7 separate regions of the Homo sapiens genome follow, and all the other regions are linked to region 2. The links come from fine-mapping of genetic effects on gene expression. A gene starts in region 2. Each other region holds a variant in brackets. All regions are shown on one strand. Distances are between the middles of the regions. Region 1 overlaps SCPEP1 (serine carboxypeptidase 1). Region 2 holds the start of SCPEP1 (serine carboxypeptidase 1). Region 3 overlaps ANKFN1 (ankyrin repeat and fibronectin type III domain containing 1). Region 4 overlaps DGKE (diacylglycerol kinase epsilon). Region 5 overlaps COIL (coilin). Region 6 has its middle 39 kb from the start of AKAP1-DT. Region 7 overlaps SCPEP1 (serine carboxypeptidase 1).

What was found.
Region 1: its variant is fine-mapped to the expression of SCPEP1 in whole blood (TOPMed, PIP above 0.99). The same link has a PIP of 0.9 or more in monocytes.
Region 3: its variant is fine-mapped to the expression of SCPEP1 in spleen (GTEx, PIP 0.92).
Region 4: its variant is fine-mapped to the expression of SCPEP1 in whole blood (INTERVAL, PIP above 0.99).
Region 5: its variant is fine-mapped to the expression of SCPEP1 in whole blood (TOPMed, PIP above 0.99).
Region 6: its variant is fine-mapped to the expression of SCPEP1 in monocytes after Pam3CSK4 (Quach 2016, PIP 0.95). The same link has a PIP of 0.9 or more in monocytes and monocytes after LPS.
Region 7: its variant is fine-mapped to the expression of SCPEP1 in blood mononuclear cells (TOPMed, PIP 0.98).

The regions. Positions count from the first base shown.
Region 1 is chr17:57,003,679-57,007,745 of GRCh38, forward strand. It overlaps SCPEP1 (serine carboxypeptidase 1), which reads left to right. Exons shown (of 13, transcript NM_021626.3): 13 at 2,495-3,090. The coding sequence ends at 2,557. Among named protein-coding and RNA genes, the nearest start is that of SCPEP1, 28 kb to the left of the region's middle. The variant T/G (reference allele first, on the strand shown) is at 1,793.
Region 2 is chr17:56,976,435-56,980,501 of GRCh38, forward strand. It overlaps SCPEP1 (serine carboxypeptidase 1), which reads left to right and starts at 1,697. Exons shown (of 13, transcript NM_021626.3): 1 at 1,697-1,801. The coding sequence starts at 1,726. RefSeq lists a silencer at 1,580-1,639.
Region 3 is chr17:56,234,361-56,238,427 of GRCh38, forward strand. The region is part of intron 3 of ANKFN1 (ankyrin repeat and fibronectin type III domain containing 1); the gene reads left to right. Among named protein-coding and RNA genes, the nearest start is that of ANKFN1, 83 kb to the left of the region's middle. The variant AT/A (reference allele first, on the strand shown) is at 2,073.
Region 4 is chr17:56,868,700-56,872,766 of GRCh38, forward strand. It overlaps DGKE (diacylglycerol kinase epsilon), which reads left to right. Exons shown (of 12, transcript NM_003647.3): 12 at 1-868. The region is part of intron 1 of LOC124904037 (a long non-coding RNA gene); the gene reads right to left. It also overlaps the pseudogene RNU6-1158P. Among named protein-coding and RNA genes, the nearest start is that of MIR3614, 21 kb to the right of the region's middle. The variant C/T (reference allele first, on the strand shown) is at 1,809.
Region 5 is chr17:56,947,954-56,952,020 of GRCh38, forward strand. COIL (coilin) reads right to left here. Exons shown (of 7, transcript NM_004645.3): 2 at 1,936-3,043; 3 at 1,728-1,814; 4 at 1,434-1,481. It also overlaps the pseudogene LOC100419768. Among named protein-coding and RNA genes, the nearest start is that of COIL, 11 kb to the right of the region's middle. The variant A/G (reference allele first, on the strand shown) is at 1,598.
Region 6 is chr17:57,044,215-57,048,281 of GRCh38, forward strand. It overlaps the pseudogene RNF126P1. Among named protein-coding and RNA genes, the nearest start is that of AKAP1-DT, 39 kb to the right of the region's middle. RefSeq lists enhancers at 1,834-2,761, 1,999-2,048. The variant G/GGACT (reference allele first, on the strand shown) is at 2,292.
Region 7 is chr17:56,997,229-57,001,295 of GRCh38, forward strand. It overlaps SCPEP1 (serine carboxypeptidase 1), which reads left to right. Exons shown (of 13, transcript NM_021626.3): 10 at 1,157-1,270; 11 at 3,627-3,764. Among named protein-coding and RNA genes, the nearest start is that of SCPEP1, 21 kb to the left of the region's middle. The variant A/G (reference allele first, on the strand shown) is at 1,681.

The DNA.
Region 1 (4,067 bases), 27 kb after region 2:
AGCAGGGAGGGGCCCGCAGTGCTAAGTGAGAACTCAGGGGAAGGGCTGAAACGTGAGTGATGATGTGCTTACACCGATGTCCTTGGCACCTGCGTTGGTGAGATATTTTGGTGAGGTGGCAAGCTCAGAAGCCAGATTGGAAAGACTGGAGAAAATGAATGAGTAGTGAGGAGAAGAGACAGTAGCTTCCTTTAAGAAGCCAGAGAAAGCAGCCCACTCTCAAAAGACACTTAATCTAGGCTGGGTATGGTGGCTGACACCTGTAATCCCAGCATTTTGGGAGGCGAAGGCAGGTGGATCACCTGAGGTCAGGAGTATGAGACCAGCTTGGCTAACATGGAGAAACCCTATCTTTACTAAAAATACAAAAATTAGCTGGGCATGATGGTGGGCACCTGTAATCCCAGCTACTCAGGAGGCTGAGGCAGGAGAATCGCTTGAACCTGGGAGGCAGAGGTTGCAGTGAGCCAAGATAGTGCCATTGCATCCAGCTGGCGAGATAGCGCCACTGCACTCCAGCCTGGGCAACAGAGTGAGACTCTGTCTCAAAAAAGAACAAAAATCAACTGGGCGCGGTGGCGCCTGCCTGTGGTCTCAGCTGCTCTGGAGGCTGAGTGAGGTGGGAGGATTGATTGAGCCTGAAAGCTTGGGTGACAGAGTGAGACTCTGTCTCAAAAAGTAAATCAATAAATAAACAAATAGACTTAATCTAAAGGGAGAACAAACAAGGCAGCAGGGCACAGAGGGAGAGGGCATTATTTATGGCTCTCAGGATCTGAGTACCTTCAATATTGACTAAAAGAAAGAAAATTAGAACGTCTTAGAGCAAGCACTGTTACAGGTTGAGTACCCCTTATCTGAGATGTTTGGAACCAGAAATGTTTCAGATTTTTAATTTTTTTTTTATTTTGGAATATTTGCATATCCATAATGAGATATCTTGGGGATGGGACCCAAGTCTAGGCAATGGAATTCATTTATGTTTCATATACACCTTATACACATAGACCGAAGGTACTTTCGTACAATATTTTAAATAATTTTGTGCATGAAGCAAAGTTTGTGTGCACTGAGTTATTAGAGAGCAAAGGGTGGCTATTTCAGCCACCCATGGCTCTTCAACCAATCTGTGGTTGTTAGGCATCATATCATTTCTGACTCCAAATTTATATGCTGCCGATAAGCAATCTTTTTCTTGCATGTAGTCACACATAAGTACTTCACAGTAAGAAATACAACATACCATTAATACAGTGGAAAAGTTGTGTGTTCAGAGTAACTGAGCAGCACAGTAGCATGACCAGAATACCTGTGTCAGCTGCTAGACAACAGCAACAGCAAGCAACAGCAGCTTTCGGTCTCTACCTACAATGCTGTGTTTTGATTAAAAGGTTACTGTACTGTAACCCCCTTGGGGATGCAGAAATAAACTGTGTGTTGTGCGCCTGCATTTTGAATGCAGCCGCCCATGGGGCAGGTGTGAAATGTTCCACTTGTGGCCTCATGGTGGCACTCAAAAAGGCTGGAATTGTGGAGCATTTTGGATTTTCCAATGAGGGATGCTCAGCCTGCCCTAGAGAGAAGTCCCTGACGAGGCTGGTAGGAAGGCATGGAACAAGCCAACCACGCGCTCTGTATACTAGAGTTCAGGCCCATTTCCTGTTGGTTTGTCACATATAGAACAACAGATCAGTTGGGGACAGGCTTAAAATAGCCCTTGGAGACTGTTGTTAAGTCGTCCCCAAACCACTTCCCCTTTCATTGATTAAATGACATTTTAGGATAACCCACC[T/G]TGCCTGTGCCTCCTGGGGACTCTTGGCAGAAGAGTCAAGGATGGGTGTGCCATAGAGAATCATGGAGCCAGGGAATTACATAACGGGGAGACCATATACTCCAACCCCTTCTGTGTAGGGAGAAACTGAGGCCTCTGCCCTTCCCCCTTTTGATGCTGTGTGGGAAGGAAATTTTAAAGGACTTATTCTAAAAATCTGAGGGAAAACAAAAGAAAGTTGAATAACTGCGAAAATCGGATGCCACCCAAAGGGCCCTGTTTGTTTTTATTATTTGCGGCTCTCTGCTGTGAGCTCCCTTCTCAGCCATTTCTCTATTCTCAATCCGGGATCCCTTCTAGACAGATGCCTTTAAAATGTTTAGAATCTTCCTTCTTCCTTGAACAGGCTAGGTCTAGTATCATTAGCATGACCCTTACCAAGAAATCAACAGATCAGCTCCAAATGGAGTAGAAGGTTCTTGTCTTAAATGCTGACTTCTCCAGGTCCCTGCCACCCAGCCCAGTCAGGGCCCAGAAGAGCTTTCATCCAGTGCAGGAGTCATTTTCAGGAAGGACCCTCTCTCAGGGATGTGCCCAGGTGTCTGCACAGGTTGCTGTCACAGAGCTGGCTCCCTTTTGGGAGCAAGGTTTCAGGATGTTGCCTCTGACCCCAGCCCCAGGAATAGCACCAGGAGCACTAACTCAGATGTTGTTTTTTTCTAGGTTCCTTCTGACCAAGGGGACATGGCTCTGAAGATGATGAGACTGGTGACTCAGCAAGAATAGGATGGATGGGGCTGGAGATGAGCTGGTTTGGCCTTGGGGCACAGAGCTGAGCTGAGGCCGCTGAAGCTGTAGGAAGCGCCATTCTTCCCTGTATCTAACTGGGGCTGTGATCAAGAAGGTTCTGACCAGCTTCTGCAGAGGATAAAATCATTGTCTCTGGAGGCAATTTGGAAATTATTTCTGCTTCTTAAAAAAACCTAAGATTTTTTAAAAAATTGATTTGTTTTGATCAAAATAAAGGATGATAATAGATATTATTTTTTCTTATGACAGAAGCAAATGATGTGATTTATAGAAAAACTGGGAAATACAGGTACCCAAAGAGTAAATCAACATCTGTATACCCCCTTCCCAGGGGTAAGCACTGTTACCAATTTAGCATATGTCCTTGCAGAATTTTTTTTTCTATATATACATATATATTTTTTACCAAAATGAATCATTACTCTATGTTGTTTTACTATTTGTTTGACATATCAGTATATCTGAAACACCTTTTCATGTCAATAAATGTTCTTCTCTAACATTTTTAATGGCTGTGGAGCATTCTACTTTATGGTTGTACTCTAGTTTATTTACAAAATTCCCAGTTGTTTCCGACAAGTATAATAATTTCTAGTTTGTTGCTATTATACATAGTGCTCTGTTGATTCACCCTGATAGTTAGATTTTTTTGTACCTCCTTATTTTCTTAGAATAAATTCATAAAAGTGTAATTATTTAGTCAGAGGATTGCCACATTTCCTTAAAATCAAAATAATTAGCTCAGGACTTTTAACTTTTTATTCATAGCTCAAGATCTACATAAGGAGGTTTGATGCCGTGGCTCACACCTATAAACCCAGCACTTTGGGAGGTCGAGGCAGGAGGAATGCTTGAGCCCAGGAGTTCAACAACAGCCTGGGCAACATAGGGAGACCCCATTTCTACAAAAAAAATAAAAACATTAGCCGAGCATGGTGGCACACACCTGTAGTCCCAGCTACTCAGGAGGCTGAGGCAGGAGGATCACTTGAGCCAGGGAGGTTGATGTTGCAGTGAGCCATGATCAAGCCACTCACTCCAGCCTGGGTGACAGAGACCCCATCTCAAAAAGAAAAAAAAATCTGCATAGGGGATCTAACAGCTTCTAGGACTGTCTGAAAGAAATATCACCTCTTGTAGTTGCAGGGCTGAGATTTTATTTATTTATTTATTGAGACTCTGTGACCCAGGCTAGAGTGCAGTGGCACAATCATGCCTCAAATGATCCTCCTGCCCCAGCCTCCCAAGTAGCTAGTACCACAGGCAAGCACCATCACATCCAGCTAATTTTTAAAATTTTTTCGTAGAGTTGGAGTCTCACTATGTGGCCCAGGCTGGTCTCGAACTCCCAGGCTCTAGCAATCCACCTGCCTTGGGCTCCCAAAGTGCTGGGATTACAGGCATGAGTCACCAAGCCTGGCCAAAGGCTGAGATTTAAAAAAACAGCCAGGCACGGTGGCTCCAGCCTGTAATCCCAGCACTTCGG
Region 2 (4,067 bases):
GCTCACTGCAACCTCCACCTCCTGGGTTCAAGCGATTCTCATGCCTTAGCCTCCCGAGTAGTTAAGACCACAAGCAAGTGCCACCACACCCAGCTAATTTTTGTATTTTTGTAGAAATGGGGTTTCACTATGTTGGCCAGGCTGGTCTCAAACCCCCGACCTCAAGTAATCTGCCCACCTCGGCCTCCCAAAGTGCTGGGATTACAGGTGTGAGCCACCTTGCGCCCTGGGCTGTAGTGTTATTTTTGTGGCAAAAAAATTGAAACCCTAAAATTCTGACTGCAGTGGAAGGGTAAGTGTATTTCAAGCCCTAGTGATACAGACCAACTTGGAAGCTTCAGACAGGAAAAGTTTGCTAGATAGTTATTTATTTTTAACTAAGCATGTACTTTTATGTATCTCCCATATGGCATGGAACACCTGCTCACTGCAGCCTGGAGCTCCTGGGCTCAAGTGATCCTCCCACCTCAGCCTTCTGAGTAGCTTGGACAGCAGGCGCGTGTCACCACATCAGTTAATTTTTGTTATTTTTTGTAGAGAGGGGGTCTCAATATGTTGCCCAGGCATTATGGATTTTATGCATTCGGGACCATCCCATGCTTAAAGCATGACAGAACCCGGCGGCATATTTTTCTCTGCCGCAGCTTTCAGTGCAGGGGCACCTCACAGGCAGGGCGGGGTCAAGGCTCTGTCCAGACAATGGCTGCAGAGTAAAAAGCACTTCCATTTATGGGGGTCAAGGGCGAGGGGAGGGAGAAAGGAGCAGGGAAAGAGGAGAAGTGGCCACATGTACTTTGATTTGTTTTTTGCTTTTTGTTACATGTACTTTTGAAGCAGTATTTAGAAGTAGCCTCTCCTACAGCCCCTGCTGTAGCTTGTCTCCTAGCTGTGAGGTGAGTTATTCAGTACCCTCTAACGTAAAAATGACCTTCAGACAGACAGACAGACACACACACACACACACACACACACACAGAGGAAAACAGCTCTGTCATCCACTTTTTCTTCCTTTCCCGTCCCCAGACCCTCGATTCTCTCTTTAAAATGACTGCTGTGAAGATAACGTAACACAGAGTAATACTAATGACAAATTATCAAAAAAGAAAAAAAAAATAAAAATCTTTATTAGTGTTTTTTAAAATGACGTAAAAGACTATGGGAAAAAATGCCAACAATAGTTATGTATAACTTTTTTGTTCATATTTCCAAAACGTTTATAACATACATAACTTTAAAAGAAAAATAATTTAAAAAATACATATCTGAAAATGAAACCCCGCTGTTTGCCAACGACCAGCTGGCTTAATCTGACTTCGCAGATGTAGCAGTGTTGGAAAACGTCGGTTCTTTTGCTGAGGGAAGGAAGAGATGGGAGGGGTAGAAAGGGCGGTGGTTATTCCCTTTAGTATTTCGATCCGGTCACACAACCTAAATCCAACATCTGCATCAAATGTCTCCTTTCCGAAATACTCTCCCTAAAATGACAGAGAACCTGGCCAGGCGGACAGAACGGCCCCTGCGCATTTGCAGGGGTCCTGGTGGGCTTGCCGGGCAGAGGGCGTGCGGGTCTCAGCAAGCTGCCGGGTCCGCCCAGGCCCCGCCCCATGCCCATTCAGGCCCCGCCCCCGACCCGCAGGCCCCGCCCCCGACCCGCCCCGTCCGCCTCCGTCACGTGATGGGGCGCCGGGTCCAGCCTGTTGCTGATGCTGCCGTGCGGTACTTGTCATGGAGCTGGCACTGCGGCGCTCTCCCGTCCCGCGGTGGTTGCTGCTGCTGCCGCTGCTGCTGGGCCTGAACGCAGGTAGGTTCAAGCAAGAGGCGCACCAGCTGCCATGCCTCTTTTTTCTCCAGGCGTGAGAGTTTGTTACTGGGTTTGTGCTTTTGAAAACATGTCTCTTTTCCCCGGTTCTTACCTTGTGTAATTATATTGCTTTTGAATCTCACTCTTTTTTTTTTTTTTCCTTAAAAAATTCAAAGTGCTTTTTTTGTCCTTTTCTGGCTCTGGGTGGTCTGAGTGCTTCCGTTCTCTCCTACGCCTAGATAGAAGCTGTGTGCAGAAATGTATGATTTGGGGAAACTGCTGGTCAATGAGGTTTCCCCGATTCAAAGGCCATGATTGGCTGCTAAATGAGGATATAAGGTCGTTTTATTTTAAGCTGAAATCTGCGGTCAAAAGTACCCTTACATCCTACCACGAATGGGACATTTCATTGAGATAAGGCCCTTTCTTTTCTTGATCAAAACAAACAAGATAACATCTTCCCCCACAGCGATCTTTTTTGGCAAAAAACAGATTTGTGTTTAATAGGATGACTTGCAAATTGATTTTCAGCAAAACCTCTCCTAGTCTGAAGCAAGCACTGAGAATTGGAACTGGCCACAAGCTTGCCTTGTGACCTTAGGCAAGTTGTTGAACAGTTTTGTTTTCCTTTTCTAAAATGGGGATCATCTGGCCCTTAGGCGAGTGTCTGGGAGATTTTGTAAAATAAGTAGCTCTGCCAATTTTACCAGTAGTCACTGCCAGGCAAGGGAGAAGTGCCTGGGGTTAGGTCAAAAGGTACCTGCGCCTTATCTGTCATTCTCAAGGGAGCGCAGCCTTATCTGTTATTGTCAAGGACAATATAATCGTGTGTTACTTGTATATAGAACCTTATAGCTAAGTCTGTAATGTTTTAGTCATCTGTTTTGCTCCTCAGGACACTTTCTGGTTTTCTTAATCTTCATTGTTGTTTTGTTTTGAGTCAGGGTCTCACTATGTTGCCCAGGCTGGTCTGGAACTGCCTGACTCAAGTGATCTTCCTACTTCAGCATCCCAAGTAGCCCGGACTGCAGACACAGGCCACCACCCTGGCTCTTTCTTATTTACAAGACGTTGTCTCATTGTCTTCCTCTCTACTCCTGTCTCTTTAGCTGTTGGGACCAGTGTTCTTTTACTGACCAATGGGGCTTGAAATTTGAGAAGGGAGGAAATAGAAGGCAGAAAACTCCAGTCACCGAGGGGATCCCCCCCATCATCTTTTAACAACAGCCCCTCTACTTTTTTTTTTCCCAGAGTGGTTTTGGAGGAAAAAAAAAAAGATGCTATAACTTGGAAATTGTTACGTTAGCAAAAAGTGACAAAGAAAATGTATTTAGCCTACTCTTTTCTAAAACATATTTTGTGGATGCTAGAAAAGTTAAGTAAGGAAAATTGGAGTTAGGGGATTATAGGATACGTATATTAAACACACATACACAGATATATATCGTTCAGTTTAAAAAAATCATCTACATGAGTTAGGAAAATTGCCCTTTTTCATATTTGTTGTAGCTCTTTCCTTGCTGTTTGCCTTTTTATTTTTGATTTACAGAAATTTTGTTGTATAGAAATATAACAAGTTTCTGTTCTCACCTCCATCATTGTTTCTTTTGTACAGTCTCTGGGGTTTGCTTAGATTCTTTCCTCATCCAGACATTAGAAATATATTTAACTATATTTTTGTATTTTTTTAATGTTTAAAGTTTAAAATTTAATTGCTTGATCCTCATGGAACTTATTTCGTTTATAGTGTTGAGAGGACCTAAATTTCTCTTTTTTTCTCCAAAAAAGGTAATTGTTGCTCCATTACTGTATATTGAATATTCTCAGCCCCACTAATTTGTGATGCCTCTTCACTCATGTTTTTTGTTTGTTTGGTTGGTTGGTTTTTTGTTTTTTTGAGATAGGATCTCCCTCTGTCACCTAGGCTGGAGTGCACTGGTGTGATCACAGCTCACTGCAGCCTCAACCTACTGGGCTCAAGCGATTCTCCTACCTCTGTCTCCTGAGTAGCTGGGACCACAGGCATATGCCACAATGCCCAGCTAATTTTTGCATTTTTTGTAGAGATGGGGTGTTGCTATGTTGCTTAGACTGGTTTTGAACTCCTATGCACAAGCTATCAGCCTGTCTTGGCCTTCCAAAGTGTTGGGATTACAGGAGTGAGCCACCAAGCCTGGTGTCTTACTCATGTATTAAATACGATATAAAAACCAGTATATTGCATTCTGAGATTTTTACTTTTTTACTCAAAATATAAATCTCTCTT
Region 3 (4,067 bases), 740 kb before region 2:
TATTTTAGGTTAACAGGTACATGTGCAGGTTTGTTATATAGGTAAAATTATGTTACAGGAATTTGTTGTACAGATTATTTTATCACCCAGGTACTAAGACTAGTACCCAATAGTTATTTTTTCTGATCCTTTTCTTCCTCCCACCCTCCACCCTCAAGTAGGTCCCGGTGTCTGTTGTTCCCCTCTTTGTGTCCATAAGTTCTCATCATTTAGCTGCTACTAATAAGTGAGAACATGCAGTATTTGGTTTTCTGTTCCTGCATTAGTCTGCTAAGGATAATAATCTTCAGCTCCATCCATGTTCCCACAAAAGACATCATCTCATTCTTTTTTATGGCTGCATAGTATTCCATGGTATATATGTACCACATTTTCTTTATCCAATCTGTCATTCATGGGCATTTAGGTTGATTCCATATAATTACTATTGTGACAGGTGTTGCAATGAACATTCACATACATGTGTCTTTATGGTAGACTGATTTACATTCCTCTGGGTATGTACCCAGTATTGGGATTGCTGCGTTGAATGGTAGTCCTGTTTTTAGCTCCTTGAGGAATCACCACACTGCTTTCCATAATGGTTGAATTAATTTACAGTCCCACCAAGAGTGTCTAAGTGTTCCCTCTTCTCTGCAACCTTGCCAGGATCTGTTATTTTTTTACTTTTTATTAACAGCCATTCTGACTGGTATGAGATGGTATCTCACAGTGGTTTTCATTTGCATTTCTCTAATGTTCGGTGATATTTGACTTTTTTTCATATGCCTGTCAGCCACATGTATGTCTTCTTTTGCAGTGTCTGTTCATGTCCATTGCCCACTTTTTAATGTTTGTTGTTGTTGTTGTTTCTTATAAACTTGTTTAAGTTCCTTACAGATGCTGGATATTAGACCTTTGCGAGATGCATAGGTGGCAAATATTTTCTCCCATGCTGTAGATTGTCTGTTTATTCTGTTCATAGTTTCTTTTGCTGTGCAGAAGCTTTTACATTTGATTAGATCCCATTTGTCAACTTTTGCTTGCGTTGCAATTACTTTTGGCATCTTCATCAGGCCATTTTTGTCCATTCCTATGTCCACAATGGTATTGCCTAGGTTGTCTTCCAGAGTTTTTATAGTTTTGGGTTTTACATTTAATTCTTTAATCTATCTTTAGTTGATTTTTGTACATGGTGTAAGGAAAGGGTCCCGTTTCAATCTTCTGCATATGGCTAGCCTGTTACCCCAGCACCATTTCTTGAAAAGGGAGTCCTTTCCTCACTGACGGTTTTTGTCAGCTTTGTCAAAGATCAGATGGTTGTAGGTGTGCAGCCTTATTTCTAGGCTCCTTATTCTGTTCCATTGGCCTATGTGTCTATTTTTGTGCCAGTACCATGCTATTTTGGTTACCGCAGCCCTGTATTATAGTTTGAAGTTGGCTAAGGTGATGACTCCAGCTTTGTTCTTTCTGCTTAGGATTGCTGTAGCTATTCAGACTCTTTTTTGGTTCCATATGAATTTTGAAATCATTTTTTCTAATTCTGTGAAAAATGTCTTTGGTAGTTGGATAAAAATAGCACTGAATCTGCAAATCACTTTAGGCAGTATGGCCATTTTAATCATATTGATTCTTCCTATCCATGATCCATGAGCATGGAATGTTTTTCCATTTATTTGTGTCATCTCTGATTTCTTTTTCTTTTCTTTTCTTTTCTTTCTTTCTTTCTTTTTTTTGAGATGGAGTCTCACTCTGTCACCCAGGCTGGAGTGCAGTGGCATGATCTTGGCTCACTGCAACCTCTGCCTCCCAGGTTCAAGCGATTCTTCTGCCCCAGCCTCCTGAGTAGCTGGGACTACAGGCATGTGCGACCACCCCCGGCTACTTTTTTGTATTTTTAGTAGAGACGTGGTTTCACCATGTTAGCCAGGATGGTCTCGAACTCCTGACCTCATGATCTGCCTGCCTCGGCCTCCTAAAGTACTGGGATTACAGGAGTGAGCCACCGCGCCTGGCCCTGATTTCTTTGAACAATGCTTTGTAGTTCTCATTGTAGATATCTTTCACCTCCCTAGTTAGCTGTATTCCTAGAT[AT/A]TTTATTCTTTTCGTGGCAATTGTGAATGGGATTGCATTCCTGATTTGAATCTTGGCTTGTCTGTTGTTGGTGTATAGGAATACTAGTGGTTTTTGAACATAATTTTGTATCCTGAAACTTTGCCGAAGTTGTTTATTAGCTGAAGGAGTTTTTAGGCCAAGACTATGGGGTTTTCTAGATACGGAATCAGGTGGTCTGCAAACAAGGGTAGTTTGACTTCCTCTCCTCCTATTTGGATGCCCTTTATTTCTTTCTGTTGCCTGATTGCTCTGGCCAGGACTTCCAATACTATTAGGTTGGTGCAAAAGTAACTGTGGCTTTTACATTTACTATAATGGCAAAAACTGCAATTACTTTTGCACCAACCTAATACATTGACTATGAGGAGTGAGAGAGGGCATCCTTGACTTGTGCCAGTTTTCAAGGGAAATGCTTCCAGCTTTTGCCCTTTAAGTATGATGTTCTCTGTGGGTTTGTCATGGATGGCTCTTACTATTTTGAGCTATGTTCCTTCACTGAGAGTTTTCAACATGAACTGATGTTGAATTTTATTGAAAGCCATTTCTGCATCTATTGAGATAATCATGTTGTTTTTGTCTTTAGTTCTGTTTATGTGATGAATACCATTTATTAATTTACATATGTCGAGCCAACCTTGCATACCAGGGATGAAGCCTACTTGATTGTTGTGGGTTAGCTTTTTAATATGCTGCTGGATTTGGTTTGCAAGTATTCTATTAAGGACGTTTGCATCAATGTTCATAAAGGATATTGGCCTGAAGTTTTTGTTGTTGTTGTGTCTCTACCAAGTTTTAGTATCAGGATGATGCTGGCCTCATAGAATGAGGTGGGGAAGAATTAGTTCCCTCTTCAATTTTTGGAACAGTTTCAGTAGGAATTGTACCAGCTCTAAACACCCACATCTTTTACATCTCTTTGTACATCTGGTAGAATTCTGCTGTGAATTCATCTAGTCCTGCCCTTTCTTTAATCGGTAGGCTATTTATTACTGATTCAATTTTGGAGCTCATTATTGGTCTGTTCAGGGAATCAATTTCTTCCTGGTTCAGTCTTGGGAGGGTGTATATGTCAGGAATTTATCCATCTCTTCTAGGTTTTCTAGTTTCTGTGCATACAGGTATTCATGGTAGTTTCCGATAGTTATTTTTATTTCTCTGGGGTCAGTGGTAACATCCTCTTTGTCATTTCTAATTGTGTTTATTTGGATCTTCTCTCTTTTCTTCTTCATTAGTCTAGCTAGTAGCTTATATATCATTAATTTTTATAACAAACCAACTCCTGGATCTTTTGGAATGGTTTTTTTTTGTGTCTCAATTTCTTTCAGTTCAGCTCTGATTTTGGTTATTTCTTGTCTTCTGCTAGCTTTGGTGTTGGCTTTCTCTTGCTTCTCTAATTCGTTCTGTTGTGATGTTAGGTTGTTAATTTGAAATCTTTCTAACTTTTTGATGTGGGAGTTTAGTGCTATAAATTTCCCACTGAAGGCTGATTGAACTGTGTCCCAGAGATTCTGGTATGTTTTATCATTGTTCTCATTAGTTTCAAAGAACTTCTTGGTATCTGCCTTAATTTCATTACTTACCCAAAAGTCATACAGGAGCATGTTGTTTAATTTCCATGTAATTGCATGACTTTGAGCAATTTTTGTAGTCTTGACTTCTATTTTTACTGTGCTGTGGTCCAAGAGTATGTTTGATATGATTTCAGTTCTTTTGCATATGCTCATTGTTTTATGTCTAATTGTGTGGTCGATTTTAAAGTATGTGCCATGTGGTAATGAGGAGAATGTATATTCTGTTGTTGGGGACAGAGTTCTGTTGAGGTCTATCAGATCCATTTGGTCCAATGTTGAGTTCAGGTCCTGAACATTTTTGTCAATTTTCTGCCTCAATGATCTGTCCTCAAAAATACTGTCAGTGGAGTGTTGGAGTTTCCCACTATTATTGTGTGCGAATCTAAGTCTCTTTGTAGACTA
Region 4 (4,067 bases), 110 kb before region 2:
CACAACCATGAGATACAATAAGCAGCTTTGACTTAGTGTCCCAAAAAGTGGTTCTTGGTCTACAGCAGGGCAAACATATATGTGGCAAGTTCTGATCACATACTTTTAGACAGAAAGAATAAAAAATTCATATTGCATGGCTTTTGTAGCCTAAGAGCACAGAATCATACACGTGTGTTAGGAGAAACATTCATTCTCACGCATATAAACTGGCTCCTGGCAGAGTAGAGCAGTAAGTGGGATCAAAGGTGAATTCACCTTATTTTCAGTTGGTAGAGTATGGAAAAATGTATCACTTATTTGAAATACCTGAATGGAAACCCAGCCTCTACTACTGTAACTTAACACTTGTTCTTCCTGAGCCTCAAATTTTCTTTCTCTGTAAGAATGGGAATTAATGCCCACCTACGGGTTGCAAGTGCTTACAGGAGCTGGGCAAGCAACGAAGGTAAGAGTTGTAGAGACTTCGGTAAACTGGAGCACATGATTCCTGGGAAGCAGGCCTAGTGTAAACAATTTATTTTTCTAGAAAAGACAGAAGTTTAGAGTATATGAAATCTAATTTTTAAGTATTGGTTGGCAACTAATTGACTATCGTCTACCATAAGGTTATATGATAATTATTAGGGCAGGAGAGTGAATGCATCTTAATATGCATGGCAGAACTGTGTGTTTCCTTCCATCTGGATTTTCATAAAGCTTTCTGATTTATCAGTAACGATCTGAAAAATGTACTGTGGCATGTAACATCTTTTATTCATTTTATTAGGCATTAGAGGAAGAATATTCTGTAGTCCTGCTTTATTCTGCCATCTTTACCTGGAAATCCATTTTTATAAAATTTTTGTAATAAAAATTCACTTGATCACTTGCCTGCTTTCTTTTAAACAGTGCCAAGCGTAATGCCCCTTGATAATTTACATATATGTGAACGTGGCTGTGATAGCTGCTGATGTTCACACATAGGCCATCTTACATGTAATGATCCATGTTTGGACTTAAACAGCTTCACACATTTATTGTACAGTTAGGTGTCACATGCTTTTACTTTTTATTTTATAATCTGTATTTCTGTGAGGTAGACATTATTGGCTCCATGTTATATACATTGATAGCCCGGAGCTAGAGATTGAACCCAGGCCATCCTCCCCACTGCCTTTCATCATCAACACAACCACCACCAACAGTATTTTAAAAGTGTTAAATATTGGCAGACGTGTCATTGTTCTGAGCACTAGGACTAGGGCTTATGCGGCTGTCTGAGGAATTCCCTGTACAAGGAAACATCATATACCAAAAAGTTACTCATGGAAGGAGTTTGGAGATGATGAGCTAAAAGTATTACACATGGACTATTGTAAAAGAAAAAAAAGCAGGCACAATAAAATTTTAGAATGTACTTAAGAAGCAATTCGTGACTTGGGAAACCCCAAACCCAATGAGGATTTAGTGTTTCAATGACACAACATCAGAGGCAAGTATTCATAGAGTGCATACAGAAGCAAAATTAAGAAATGATTTGATTGGTTGCCTTTTTTGGCTTACTTTCTTGGAAAGTCCCCAGTCTCATGATCATGTTAGTTGGCTGCTTATGATTGGCTGAGGTTAAGTTTTGTATCTAACATAAGCATTTACCAAAAATGACCCAAGTTAAGTTTCATTTATGTTTACAGTTTAAGTAGGTTAGGGCTATTTTTAAGGCCTAGTTGGTTTGTTTGCTCAGGAATGTTTCAAGCCTAGTTTCCATTTTAATTTTGCTTTGACAGTTCCCCACTTTTAGTCACCCCGTCCGCAAGCTGAGAGTGTGA[C/T]CAAATGGCATAGCATTACTCTCAGTTACCACTATTGACATAGTCTAGGAAGAAGAGTCAGATGTTTATCAATAGCTGCCCTAGGGCTCAGAGTCACCCTCGGGAATGACATAGTCCATGCTGGTTTCCTCCAGTTGTCTGATCCTTACGGCAATCTTTTGACATATGAGTGACTACTGGAAAGCACTTAAACATCCTTGAAAGGACCAGCCTCTGTGAATAACACCTGTAATCTCAGAACTTTGGAGGCCAGAGTAGGGGAATTGCTTGAGCAGGAGTTCAAGACCAGCTAGACAATGTAACAAGACCCCATGTCTACAAAAAAAAAAAAATTTTTTTTTAATTAGCTGGGCAGGGCTGGGTATGGAGGCTTACACCTGTAATCCCAGAATTGTGGGAGGCCAAGGCAGGTGGATTGCTAGAGCTCAGGAGTTCGAGACCAACCTAAGCAACATATTGAAACCCCATCTCTACCAAAAATACAAAAAATTAGCCGGGCGTGGTGGCACACACCTCTGGTCCCAGCTGCTCGGGAGGCTGATGGAGGAGGGTCACTTGAGCCTGAGAGGCAGAGGTTGCAGTGAGCCGAGATTGCGCCACAGCACTCCATCCTGGGTGACAGACTGAGACCTCATCTCAAAAAAATACAAATTAGCTGGGTAGTGCTCACTACAGCAGCACATATACTAAAATTGGAACAATACAGAGAAGGTTAGCATGGCCCCTGAACAAGGATGACATGCAAATTCATGAAATGTTCCATATTTTTACATATAAAAGCAAGCTGAATCCTGATCACCTTGAGTACATGTCATCAGGGACCTCCTGAGGCTGTGTCCCGTGCCCATGCATGTCCTTAATCTTGGCAAAATAAACTTTCTAAATTGGAAAAAAAAAAATTAGCTGAGTGTGGTGATGCACACCTGTAGTCCCAGCTACTCAGGAGACGGAGGTGGGAGGATCACTTTTGTCCAGGAGTTCCAGGCTACAGTGAGGTAGCATTGCACCACTGTACTCCTGCCTGGGTCAAAGAGCACGACACTGTCGCTCAAAAATAAATTTTAAAAATTATTGAGAAAATACAATGCACTGTGTTGGGTAAGCCATTGTGTATGGGTACCCACTGTGTATGGGTAAACACAATAACTACAAGAAGAATAATAGCAAAGGATTGAAAACCCTGAGTAAAGATTCCCAGGAGCCAAGATTTAACCAACTGAATAAATCAAGGGAGGCAGTGCTAATGAGATGAAAACCTTGTGTTCTTTAGGAACTTTTACATTTTGGGCAACAATATCAAATATAACAAACACTTAATGTTTTGTTAACATAAAAACACCGTAAGCTTCTCCCTGCTGAGCAGCTGAAGTGTCAGTAACTCCTACTTTGGGGTACTGCTGAGGTGAAATTATTCATCTCATATTGTACTGCTTGAAGAAAATTCGTAAGTATCACTAAAACTTTTTTCAAGAGTTGCTGAAATACTAACAAGCAATTTTTTCAATTCAGAGGCTCCCAGCTGAGGAAAAAGAGCTCTTACAAAAGAGTGAAATCTGTAACCCTTGTATGATTGAGTCTGGAGATCACTCAGGAGGCTCATTTCTGAGGGCTCACTTTATGTACAAGTGACCTGAGGTTCAGAATTTGACTAACATTTAGAGTCATCTGGTCATTTTAGGTAGGACATAGCCAAAACATTCTGATCATTTAGGTGGAAAAACCTTTATATATTTGTCATACAAGATGAACAATCCGGCTGGGCGTGGTGGCTCATGCCTGTAATCCCAGCACTTTGGGAGGCCAAGGCGAGTGGATCACCTGAGGTTGTGAGTGTGAGACCAGCCTGGCCAACATGGTGAAACCCCATCTCTACTAAAAATACAAAAAAATTAGCTGGGCATGGTGGCAGTTGCCTGTAATCCCAGCTACTTGGGAGGCTGAAGCAGGAGAAATCGCTTGAATTTGGGAGGCAGAGGTTTCAGTGAGCCGAGATCATGCCATTGCACTCCAAGCTGGGCAACAAGAGCAAAACTCCATCTCACAAAAAAAAAAAAAAAAAAAGATGAACGATCCACAAGTTGATTAGGGCCTTTGGGAGATAATCAGGATTAAATAAGGTGGTCAGGGTGGGCCTCCCATTATCAGGCTGGTGAAAGGAGCCATGACCTTCAAACTGATACTAAATCTTGACCATGATTTAGGTAATGGCAATGGACTCTGGACCAATAAAGCCCTCAGACAACTGGACGGAGGGGGAGA
Region 5 (4,067 bases), 28 kb before region 2:
TATTAATAGCATCCCTTTGACTCACAAGTATCCTGATTCAGGTGATAAATTACATGATCACCTCATCCATAGGAGATAGTAAGTGCCTAAGAAGATAAAAAACAAAACACCAACGACCTAGAACTAACCCACCAGATCCCTTCATTAACTGATTCTTCCAGCCTGCTTTTGAGGAAAGATTTTTTTTTTTTTTTTTTTTGAGATGGAGTCTCGCTCTGTTACCCAGGCTGGAGTGCAGTGGTGTGATCTCAGCTAACTGCAAGCTCTGCCTCCCGGGTTCACGCCATTCTCCTGCCTCAGCCTCCTGAGTAGCTGGGACTACAGGCACCCGCCACCATGCCCCGCTAATTTTTTTTTTTGTATTTTTACTAGAGACGGGGTTTCACTGTGTTAGCCAGGATGGTCTCAATCTCCTGATCTCGTGATCCACCCACCTTGGCCTCCCAAAGTGCTGGGATTACAGGTGGGAGCCACCAAGCCCAGCCTTGAGGAAAGGTTTCTATAAAGATTTTAAGTCTTCCAAGGCATCAATCCAGATTAAATCAAATTCCCTTGTATTTTATCTATGTTACTATATTAACACTACCAATTATTACCTTAAAAAATGGTCTTACATTCCATATAGTACATCAAAAAAAAGAAAGAATGCACTTTAACAAGATTTTCAACAAAATGTTGGTGGGTGAAAAAGAAACATGTAATTCTGTGATCCCTCTGACTGAGTCAAGCTTTTACTGAACTATGAAAAACCTCACATGCCAATATAAAGACTCATACAGATATTAAGTAAGTAAATTCCACGGATAATATTTATGAATTACCTGTGGTTACCTGATAATGCAGAAGAAATCATACTAGATCATAACAACCAGAAGTAATTCACAAATATGTAAAATAGATTCCCATGATGAAAATAATCAAATCTTCTTGCTGAGAACTATTTATTATTTTCTTTCAAAGTTTAGAATCATGAAGGAATGAATACCCAAATAAGTTGGTCTAAACTAATTAGAAAAAAGTAACTAAAAAAATTAAACTGGCTGGGCATAGTGGCTCACACCTGTAATCCCAACACTTTGGGAAGCCAAGATGGGGGGATTGCTTGAGCCAAGGAGTTTGAGACCAACCTGGGCAACATAGCAAGATCCTGTCGCTATTTAAAAACAAAAAATTAATATATTTTTTTTAAAAAAGTAAAAATTAAGCTCATCATTCTCCTACTCTATTCTTCCCAAGTATAAGGCAAATAACACAGGGAGACTTCCCAGTGATACTATTAAAGAGTTGACATTTCGATTAATGTTTTCATTTTCTACTTTCTGGCATTTTTATTTAGTAAAAAAACAAATCTGTATTATCCATACAAGTAGTATTAAATATGACTTTAGTTTTAATAATACACTGACAACTTACTTTTAAATAAACATCCTTACCTTGTAGTCAGAGACATCAGGAGAGTAACTGGATGTTAGCTCCAAAAGCTAAAAAAGAAGAAAAAACCCACAAATACATAAGCCCTCTTATCCTCTCCCATTCCCACAGCTCCTCCATCATGCCATGTTGGCGTGTCCACCCCGACCAGTCTGGGAGCCCTACC[A/G]GGAACCCGTAACAACACTGGGGTTCCAGTGGGAAGGGCTTTTACAAACACATTTAACCTGATTTTCTAAGTAAGTTTATTTGGAAGGGGAATGAACCTTTTTTGCTGTGACTGTTCTTTTGAAATATACCTTAAATGCAATCTTTTCTCCAACTTGAGGGGCAGCTGCTAACAGTGGTAACAGACTATAGTCCTTCTTGGGTGTCTCTACTGGATTCTGAAAAACAGTGTTAGTCATGTGACATCATCACTGGTGAGAAAATGTGAATCCATGACATGAACTCCACACACATTCTAAGGGGAAAGGGAGGAGATAACTTACAAAAAATAATACTTACCTGGATAATAGTAGATGAATTTTTTACCACGTCATTTAATTGCTGTTGCCTCTGGTTGTCAGTGCTTCTATTTACAACACAGGAAACAGGATGCCCTCGTCCTCGACCTCTCCCCCGCATGCCCCGTCCCTTAGCTCCCTTCCAAGAAAAAAGGTTCTCTTCTCTACCCCATCCTCTTCCTAAACTAGCAGGGAGAGACACACTGGGAGAAGCACCAGGAGCCTGTCCACCACCATTTGAGCCAGAACGCCTCCATCCAGCAGCACCTGCAGTCTGTGATGACAGCCCTGGGCCTGGACGACCTCTTCCTGCAAAAAGGCCTACTGTCTTTAAGAAACCCGCAGCACACTCCGGGGTGCTCGATGACATCAAGCATTGGTCGTCTGACTCTGCACTAGAGTCTGAACTGGAAGATGTTGTTCCAGAGGTCTTGCCCTTGCTGGGGGTAAGGCTAAAGCCAAGTTTTATAGCCAGTTTGTCTGCAGTTGTATTTTTGGTAGAGGGTTCTTCCTTTGATAACTCAGTTGGTAATTTCTCTGAGGAATTTCTGGCCTCCAAAGTGACTTTGCTGGGACCATCACTGATAGATTCATCACAAGATTCAGACTCCGAGGAGGAACTGGGACTCTCTTTTGAGCAAACGCTTACACTACCTTTCCTTTTGGCTTTAACAAGGCTGTTTCTAGCAGAACCTTTTGGAGAACTACATCTCTGATTGGCCCAGTCTTTCACTGCCTGTACTTTCGGAGACTTGGGATTCTTAGCCTTTTTTTTATATTCACATTTCTCCTTTTTCTTTGGTGATTTTCTTTTGGCCTCTTCGTTATCATCACCCACTGTGCCACAGGTTGCTTTATTTTTTCTCTTGTTTTTTTTGCTGACAGTCTGATCTGTGACAGCTTTTGGTTCCAGATCCAAGACCTTCTCATTATTGTTATTGTTCTCTCGACTCTTCCAATGCTTCTTTGAATATTTGCAATCTGGTTCAGTTTCTTCACCCTCCTCTAACTGAAATGCCCGCTTCTTTGCTTTTCTAAGAGATAAATTAATGTCACCATTACTGATGACTACAGAATTCTCAGCAACTCCTCTCTCTTCTAATTTAACTCTGTCAAAAGAACAAGAGAGAAAGCTAGAGTGAGCAATTTATAAACACATCTCCAGGACATAGTTATATACTGAGATGACTCTACAAAATGTAACTACCATCAGTCAATGAAAAAATGTCACATCACTTAAAGACAAAAGACTCTTTCTGGCAAAATGGCCTATGTAGCATTACTCACAGTCAACTTTCAAATGGCTAGTTTTATTTATTGAATAGCTACTGCATCCTAAACATTTTTAATACGTTTTTCTCTAATCTAAACACCAACACAAAGTAGGTATTTTTAATTTTACAGATCGCAAAATTACAGCTCAGACAAGTTACTTGCCCCAAATCTAGAGCTGATAAGTAGCAGAAACGCAATTCAAACTTCAGTTTGTCTAACTTCAAACTCACAATCTTTCTACAATATGCATGTCACCTACCCTAAAAGGTGATAATGCTGATTATCCATTTTGTTTCAGAATGTGGGCTTCTTTCTTTAATAAGATTTTACTCCTGTTTTAATTTAGGTGAATACTAAACAATTTATGTTCTCTAGGGTAGTGACAGCCATCTGTACAATTCCACAACACTCTGTGAAGCTTAATTTTATGTATCAATTTGTCCGGGCTATTGGACGTCCAGATATCTGGTTAAAATTACGCTGGCTCTTTCCATACCACCACAGTGGTGCACATGAATGTCTTGGCTGATGCTCTCAAGAGCATCAACAAAGCTGAAAAGCAAGGTAAATGCCAGGTTCTTATTAGGCCGAGCTCCAAAGTAACTGTCCGTTTTCTTTTTTTTATTTTTATTTTTCTTTTCTTTTTTTTTTTTTGAGACGGAGTCCCAACTCCGTCACCCAGGCCAAAGTGCACTGGTGCATTTCTCAGTTCACTACAACCTCTCCCTCCCAGGTTCAAGAGATTCTCGTGCCTCAGCCTCCCAAATAGCTGGAATTACAGGCGCCTGCCACTATGCCTCGCTAATTTTTGTATTTTTAGTAGAGATGGGGTTTTGCCATGTTGGCCAGGCTGATCTT
Region 6 (4,067 bases), 68 kb after region 2:
GGGAGAATCACTTGAGCCGAAGAGATTGAGGCTGCAGTGAGCCTTGTTCATGCCACTGCACTCCAGCCCAGGCAACAGAGTGAGACCCTGTCTCCAAAAAAAAAAAAAAAGAAAAAGAAAAAGAAAAATATCTGTTAAAGGTAAAAGTGATATTCTTGGCCATGTGGCTCATGCCTGTAATCCTGGCACTTTGAAAGGCTGAGGCAAGTGAATCACTTGAGCCCAGGAGTTCAAGACAAGCCTAGGCAGCATGGTGAAACACTTCTCTACAAAAAACACAAAATTAGTCAGGCATGGTTGCGGGCACCTGTCGTCCCAGCTATTAGGGATGCTGAGGCAGGATGATTGCTTGAGCCTAGGAGGCAGAGGTTGCAGTGACCTGTGATGGCGCCACTGCAGTCCAACCTGGGCGACGAAAAGAACCTCTGTCTCAAAATTAAAAAAAAAAAAAAGTTGTAAAAAAGTGATATTCTGGCCGGGGGCGGTGGTTTATGCCTATAATCCCAGCACTTTGGGAGGCCAAGGCGGACGGATCACCTGAGGTCAGGAGTTGGAGAACAGCCTGGCTAACATAGTGAAACCCCGTCTCTACTAAAAATACAAAAATTAGCTGGGTGTGGTGGTGGGTGCCTGTAATCCCAGCTACTCCGGAGGCTGAGGCAGGAGAATCACTTGAACCCGGGAGGCAGAGGTTGCAGTGAGCCAAGATCGTGGCATTGCACTCCAGCCTGGGCGACAGCGTAAGACTCCATCTCAAAAAAAAAAAAAAAAAGGCGATATTCTTAGCTAGAAAATTCAAAATACACATTCAGTAGTACCCCCTTATCCACGGTTTCAGTTACCTGCGGTCAACTGTAGTCCAAAAATATTAAACTGAAAATTCCAGAAATAATTCATGTTTTCAGTTGCTTGCCATTCTGAGTGGCGTGATGAAATCTCACACCGTCTTGCTTCACCCCTCCCGGCCTGTGAATCCTCCGGCTGTTCAGTGTATCTGAACTGTAGATGCTACTTGCCCATTAGTCTCTTAGTAGCTGTTAGTTATCAGACCAATCCATGGTATTGCAGTGCTTGTGTTCAAGTAACCCTTATTTGACTCAATTGTTGTGTTTATTATTCGTTATTGTTGTTAATCGCTTCCTTAGTAAGCGCCTATTTTGTAAATTAAACTCGATCATAGATATGTAGGTAGGAAAAACATAGTATATAAAAGGTTTGGGCGTCGATCAGCGAGGGAGCAGCAAATGGCCGGCGGTTGGCGCCTCGCGGGGGGCGGGCGGCGCAGAGTAGGGGGCGGTGGCCAGGGCCGAGGCGTCGCAGCAGCTAGGACGGTTCTTCTGCCACTGCTGCTCCCTGGACACCGTCCCGCGCCTATCGGATTATATCTGCCCAAGATGTGCGTCTGATTTTATCGAGGAGCTTCCTGAAGAGACCAGGAGCACAGAAAACAGCTCTGCCCCTTCCACTGCCCCCACGGACCAGAGCCGGCCGCCGTTGGAGAACGCGGACCAGCACCTGTTCACGCTGCCGCAGGGCTACGGACAGTTTGCTTTCGGCATCTTTGACGACAGCTTCGAGATCCCCACGTTCTCTCCTGGGGCGCAGGCTGACGGCAGCAAGGACCCTGAGAGACCGTGGGAGACAGAGCATCAGTCCCGGCCCCGTACTGCGCCCGGCAGCCCCGCCTCCGCCTCCCCACGCGGCGGGCCACCGGCCGGCACGAAGGCCTCCCCACGCTAGAAGGGATCATCCAGCAGCTCGTCAACGGCATCATCACGCCCGCCACCATCCCCAGCCTGGGTCCTTGGGGAGTCCTGCACTCAAACCCTATGGATTACGCCTGAGTGGCCAACGGCCTGGACGCCTTCGCACAGCTCCTCAATCAGTTTGAAAACACGGGCCCCCCACCGGCAGATGAAGAGAAAATCCAGTACCTCCCCACCGTCCCCGTCACCGAGGAGCACGTAGGCTCCGGGCTCGAGTGCCCCGTGTGCAAGGACGACTACGCGCTGGGCGAGCAGCTGCCCCGCAACCACCTGTTCCACGATGGCTGCATAGTGCACCGGCTGGAGCAGCACGACAGCTGCCCCGTCTGCCGAAAAAGCCTCCCGGGACACAACACGGCCACGAACACCCCCGCCCCGGGCCCGACTGGGATGAACTGCTCCTCCTCGTCGTCCTCCCCCTCCTCCAGCTCGCCCAGTAAAGAGAACGCCACAAGTAACTCCTGAGCCCGCGTGGGCCGGCACCCACCACTGCCCGCTGCGCCTGAGGCTGCGGGGAAACCGCGG[G/GGACT]GACTTTCCCAACCACCCTCAGCCAGGGCCGCACGGCACCCACAGACTGGGTGCCCCAGAGGCGCCAGTCTTGGCTGGTCAGCGCTACAGGCCCCGCCTGTTCCAGGGCAGGATCCTGGACCGGCCCACCGGCTCCCTGGCTCGGGAAGGCGTGGGCCACATGGTCCCCTCTGGGGCGCCTTCAGCCTCCCCGTCTTTTGTCTAACCTCACCCTCTAAACGTTCAGCGGTGGAAAGATTTTTAGAATTTTAAATTATTACTGCTTTGAAATAAATGGAAGTTTTAGCTCACATGGCGGCCATGCATGATCTGTGGCAAGACGGGGCACCGCTGCTCCACCAGTGCTGCGAGCGCCGTCAGAATAGGCCGCGTGGGCTCCCAGCCTTCCCCTCGGCTGCCTCCAGGACCTGGAGTTTGGGGGCTCGGGACCATGAGAATGACCAGCAAAATTCAGGAACAAAACTGCTCCAACGGACTTTTTTTTTTTTTTTTTTTTTTTTTTTTTTTGAGGAAGTCTAGCTCTGTCGCCCAGGCTGGAGTACAGTGGCACAATCTCGGCGGCTCACTGCAACTTCCGCTTCCCGGGTTCAAGCGATTCTTCTGCCTCAGCCTCCTGAGTAGCTGGGATTACAGGCGTGTGCCACCACGCCTGGCTAATTTTTTGTGTTTTTAGTAGAGATGGGGTTTCACCATGTTGCCCAGGCTGGTCTCAAACTCCTGACCTCGTGATCCGCCCGCCTTGGCCTCCCAAAGTGCTGGGATTACAGGCGTGAGCCACCGCGCCCGGCCACCAACAGACTTTTTTAAAGGAAAAAATATGTGTGTCTTGAAAGCTATTTAAAATACACTACCTACAAAGATTAAAAAAAAAAAAGGTTTTGTACTATCTGTGATTTTAGGCATCCACTGGGGGTTTAGGAACATGTCCCCCATGGGTAAGGGGGAACTACTGGATTTACTGTATTTATGAAATCTGTATTGTGGTCAGCACTGGGATTGGCTCTGGATGAACACAAGGAATAAGCCCTCTGCACTCAAAGAAACTGCAACAAATGGAGGGAAACCTCCAAATAAACCAATAAGTGTGTCCTGACCAACAGGGGTGCATGCAAAGAAGGAAATGACGTGGGTACTGTGGTTGCGAATAATAGAAGGAAGCTTTATGTGGTGGAACCTATTTCAGAGGATGCTTAATAAAGGCTTCCATGTGGAGGTGATGTTTAGGTTCAGATCTGAAGGAGAAAAAGGAGCCTGCAGCCACAGCTTGTAGAAGAGAGTTCCAGACACAGGGAATGCCTATGGCCAGCGCTGAATAAGACAAGACAAGACAGAAATTGACTCCTGGAAGGGGATGTTTGGGGAGTGCAGGTCAGATTGTGGAGAGGGGCTGGGGGTAGCTTGCGCAGATAGAGTATAGCCGTTATTCCAAATGCATGGGGAATTGTGGAAATTCATCATTGTTTGCATTTTAAAAAGAGCTATCTGGCTGTATCATGGAGAATAAACTAGAGGAGAGCAAGTGAACAGGCTCTTGAAAGAGAAGAAGCTGGGGTGGTACCAGCGAGGATGGAAAGGGGTGAGGGGATTTAGGCCATTTTGAAGGAAAACAAATAGATAAATAAGACATGATGTTGGATTGGAGGTAAGGGATAAGAGGGAGCTATCACTGATGGCTTCCTGTTTTCTGGCTTGGAATTATCTACCAAGGTGACACAGACTGTAGGAGAAACAGGTTTTGACCTGTTAAATTTCAGATGTCTGGGTTTATTAAAAGGG
Region 7 (4,067 bases), 21 kb after region 2:
AGTTATGGAGCATTTCTGTCACCCCAAGGAGATCCCACGTGTCTGCTTGCAGACAGTTCTCATTCCCACTCCCAGCCACAGGCAACCACTCATCTGCCTTCTGTCTCTCTAGATTTTCCTTTTCTGAACATTTTATATAAATACAATCGCACAATAGTTAGTCTTTTGCACTGGCTTCTGTCACATAGCATGATGTTTTTGAAGTTTAGAAACCAGCTTCCATACACCAAATTACAACATCAGTTCAAGACTGAATTTAGTCATCTTTCAGCCAACCAAGAAGCATATAAAGGCTGCAGGATACCCTAGGTTCCACTTTCTAGATGATTCTCTTTGGCCGTTCTGGAGAATCCCAATGGCCCCCAAGTCTATAGAATGTATAATCAATACTATTAGGTTGGTGCAAAAGTAACTGTGGTTTTTGACAGGTTTCAAGAATTATTAACTCACAACTAATGAAGCATTATTTCCCTTCCCACCCAGTTCCCTACCAACCCCTTATTTTGAACCAATTTTGACAAATCTATTTTTTCCCTTTTTTTTTTTAAGAGATAAGGTTTCACTCTGTTGCCCAGGCCAGAGTGCCATTGAATTTGAGAAATTCTGCCATTACTTTTAATGGCAAAAACCGCAGTTACTTGTGCACCAACCTAATAATAAAGCCTCTCCACTTTCAATGTGTTTCTGACTTCCTTCCTCCCGCTGGGGGTGAATCAAGGTGACGCTTTTCCTTTTCCAGCTGAATCTGAAACCCTCCCTCTTGCTGTGCAGCATCCCCAGCAGCTTGGTAAAGATGTCCTCATGGCCAGGCGTGGTGGCTCACACCTGTAATCCCACCACTTGGGAGGCTGAGGCGGGTGGATCATGAGGACAAGAGATCGAGACCATCCTGGCCAACATGGTGAAACCCTGTCTCTACTAAAAATACAAAAATGAGCTGGGCATGGTGGCGGGTGCCTGTAGTTCCAGCTACTCGGGAGGCTGAGGCAGGAAAATCGCTTGAACCCAGGAGGCGGAGGTTTCAGTGAGCCGAGATCGTGCCACTGCACTCCAGCCTGGAGACAGAGAGAGATTCTGTCTCAAAAAAAAAAAAAAAAGATGTCCTCTTGGCCTTACTTCCAGCCCTTTGACTCACTATCTACCAGTTTGGTTTTAGTTTGTCTTTGTCAGCGCCACGTGAGACACCTACAACGAGATGCCTTAAGCCAGCTCATGAATGGCCCCATCAGAAAGAAGCTCAAAATTATTCCTGAGGATCAATCCTGGGGAGGTACTTATATGACCTAATTAAGTGCCGTTTGTACAGTTATGGGGAGAAAAGAGGTGCAAATTCAGAGACCTGAATTTGTAGGGTGGGTTTTGTTGTTGGTGATGATAGGTTATAGGTAAACAATATTACTATCCACGTTTTGTAGGTGAGCAAATAGATACAGAGACAGTAAATGACTTGTCAGGGCTGGATGCAGTGGCTCACGCCTATAATCCCACCACTGTGGGAGACTGAGTTGAGAGGATTGCTTGAGGCCACAATTAAGCAACATAGTAAAGCCCCATCTCTTTAAAAAAATAGAAAAATTAGCTGGGCATGGTGGCATGTGGCATATAGTTCTAACTACTTGGGAGGCTGAGGTGGGAGGATTGCTTGAACCCAGGAGTTTGAGGGTACAGTGAGCTATGATT[A/G]TGCCACTGCTCTCCAGCCTGGGCAGCAGAGAGAAACCCTGTTTCTTAAAAAGGGGAAAAAAAAGACATCAAAATTGATTCAAAATAAGGAGTTGGTAGGGAGCTGAGTGGGGAGGGAAATAATGTGTAATTGGTTGTGAGTTAATAATTGTTGAAGCCTGGTATGGGTACATCGGAGCATTGTATGCTTCTCCTTTCTATCCATTTGAAATTTTCCATAATAAAAAATTAAGATAAAAAAGCTACATCGAAGGCCACAGTTGGTTGCAGATGAGATTTCGCGCCAAAGGTCCTTGCAGGATGTCAGAGACACCCAGGTGCTCGGGCAGATTTTGACCAGCTCTCTCTTGCTGACCTCCCCAGGCATCCTGATGCTGGATATGGCCAGGCATTACTGCGTTCTGGTCTCAAGGCCATGGTGAGGAAATAATGAAATCCTTAGAGACCAGGGCCAGGTAGAAATCTTGGTTAAGTTCCTACTTTAGTCCTATAGGGAGGCCTTGAGCAAGCAGAGATCTCAGGTTTCTGAAGGGAAAATACTCCAAACCTAAGAGGGTTTTGTTTCATGTGTGTTCAAGATACCCCAAGGATATGGGGTCAGTGGTCCTGCGGCTGCTGCTGGGAGCCTACGATTTGCTGCTGCTGGGAGCTTTCTCAGGGGACATGGGCCCTCCTCTCCCAACCTGCAGTCACCAGAGGTCTCATTCCATCCCTGGTTTTTTCATTACTCCTGAGTGCTGGGAGAATTTTAGAAATGAAGAAAAATTAGCTCAAATGAAAAGAGCTGGGTGTGGCCGGGTGTGGTGGCTCACGCCTGTAATCCCAGCATTTTGGGATGCCAAGGTGGGCGGATCACCTGAGGTCGGGAGTTCGAGACCAGCCTGACCAACATGGAGAAACCCTGTCTCTACTAAAAATACAAAATTAGCTGGGTGAGGTGGCACATGCCTGTAATCCCAGCTACTTGGGAGGCTGAGGTGGGGGAATCGCTTGAACCCGAGAGGCAGAGATTGCGGTGAGCCAAGATTGTGCCATTGCACTCCAGCCTGGGCAATAAGAGTGAAACTCTGTCTAAAAAAAAAAAAAAAAAAAAGAGCTGGGCGTGGTGGTGTGCATCTGTAGTCTCAGCTACTTGGGAGGCTGAGGTGGGAGGATCGCTTAAGCCTGGGAGGTAGAGGCTGCAGTGAGCTGAGATTGTGCCCCCGCTCTCCAGCCTGGGTGACAGGGTGAGACTCTGTCTCAAATAAGTAAATAAATAAATAAAAATTAAATTTTTTTAAAAGAAGACTTCTTATCTCCCAAGGTAATGAAGAAGAAAATGGGATGTTGCTTGTCAGATGCCTCCTTGGCAGTGACTAGCAAATAATGGTGGCTGCCACTCTTATTGCTGTCATTCAGTGTTAGGATAATGCTGATGGGCAGGAGCTAGCAAGAGTACTAGCTCCTCTCTTGCCTGGGGCTTGTTATTCATTTGGCTTTCCTGAGGGCCAGCTCTGAATTGGTTTAGGTTTGATCTGGTTTATTATAAGGTAGGCCTACCTGTTCAGAACTTGAAACTTGGCCCTGGTGTTACTCAAAAAAACAGGAAAACTGACATTGGCCCAAAGCACAATTTATTCCCTGAGTGTACCAGCCTAATGAGTATTTCCTGGGCCTCTCCCTCCCTGTTTCCTTGGACAGTAGCCTATTCCAGGTGTCAATTCCTCATTAAAAATGGTGCCTGCTGTCATCACAAGCTCTCAAGAGAATGGACCACATGTGCTATTTATGTGTGCCTTACACCTGACCAGTCGGCACAAATTTCTGGGCTGGTTCATCCCTGTTTGTGAAGCATCTGTGCATTCAGTCGTTGTTCGGTGCTGGAGCCCAAGATGCTCTGGGCTGAAAGGTACCTCCTGTTTTGGCAGATTCCAAGCTACTCCCTCTTTCTCCTTCCCCATGTGCAGGCCAGGCTACCAACGTCTTTGTGAACATGGAGGAGGACTTCATGAAGCCAGTCATTAGCATTGTGGACGAGTTGCTGGAGGCAGGGATCAACGTGACGGTGTATAATGGACAGCTGGATCTCATCGTAGATACCATGGGTAGGAATTGACTCTGAGAGGCACCTAGAGGCAGTTTTATGGGTTCAACTGGAAGGGAACTGGCCTTGGACATGTCAGTCTTGCGGTGGGTGATGTTGAAATGCCAGGTGGAAGGCCATTTCCCATTACATCCGTCTACCCCGACCTTGATTATTCAAAGGGTGGGGAGCTGCACGTGGCTGTGACCCCTCAGAAGCCTGAGCCTACCTGGGTTTGGGGGCCCTTAGGTATGATTAAAGAAAAGAACACCACCTGTCTCTACCACAAAACTTAGACATTTTCCTGGTTATTGGGCAAATGCGC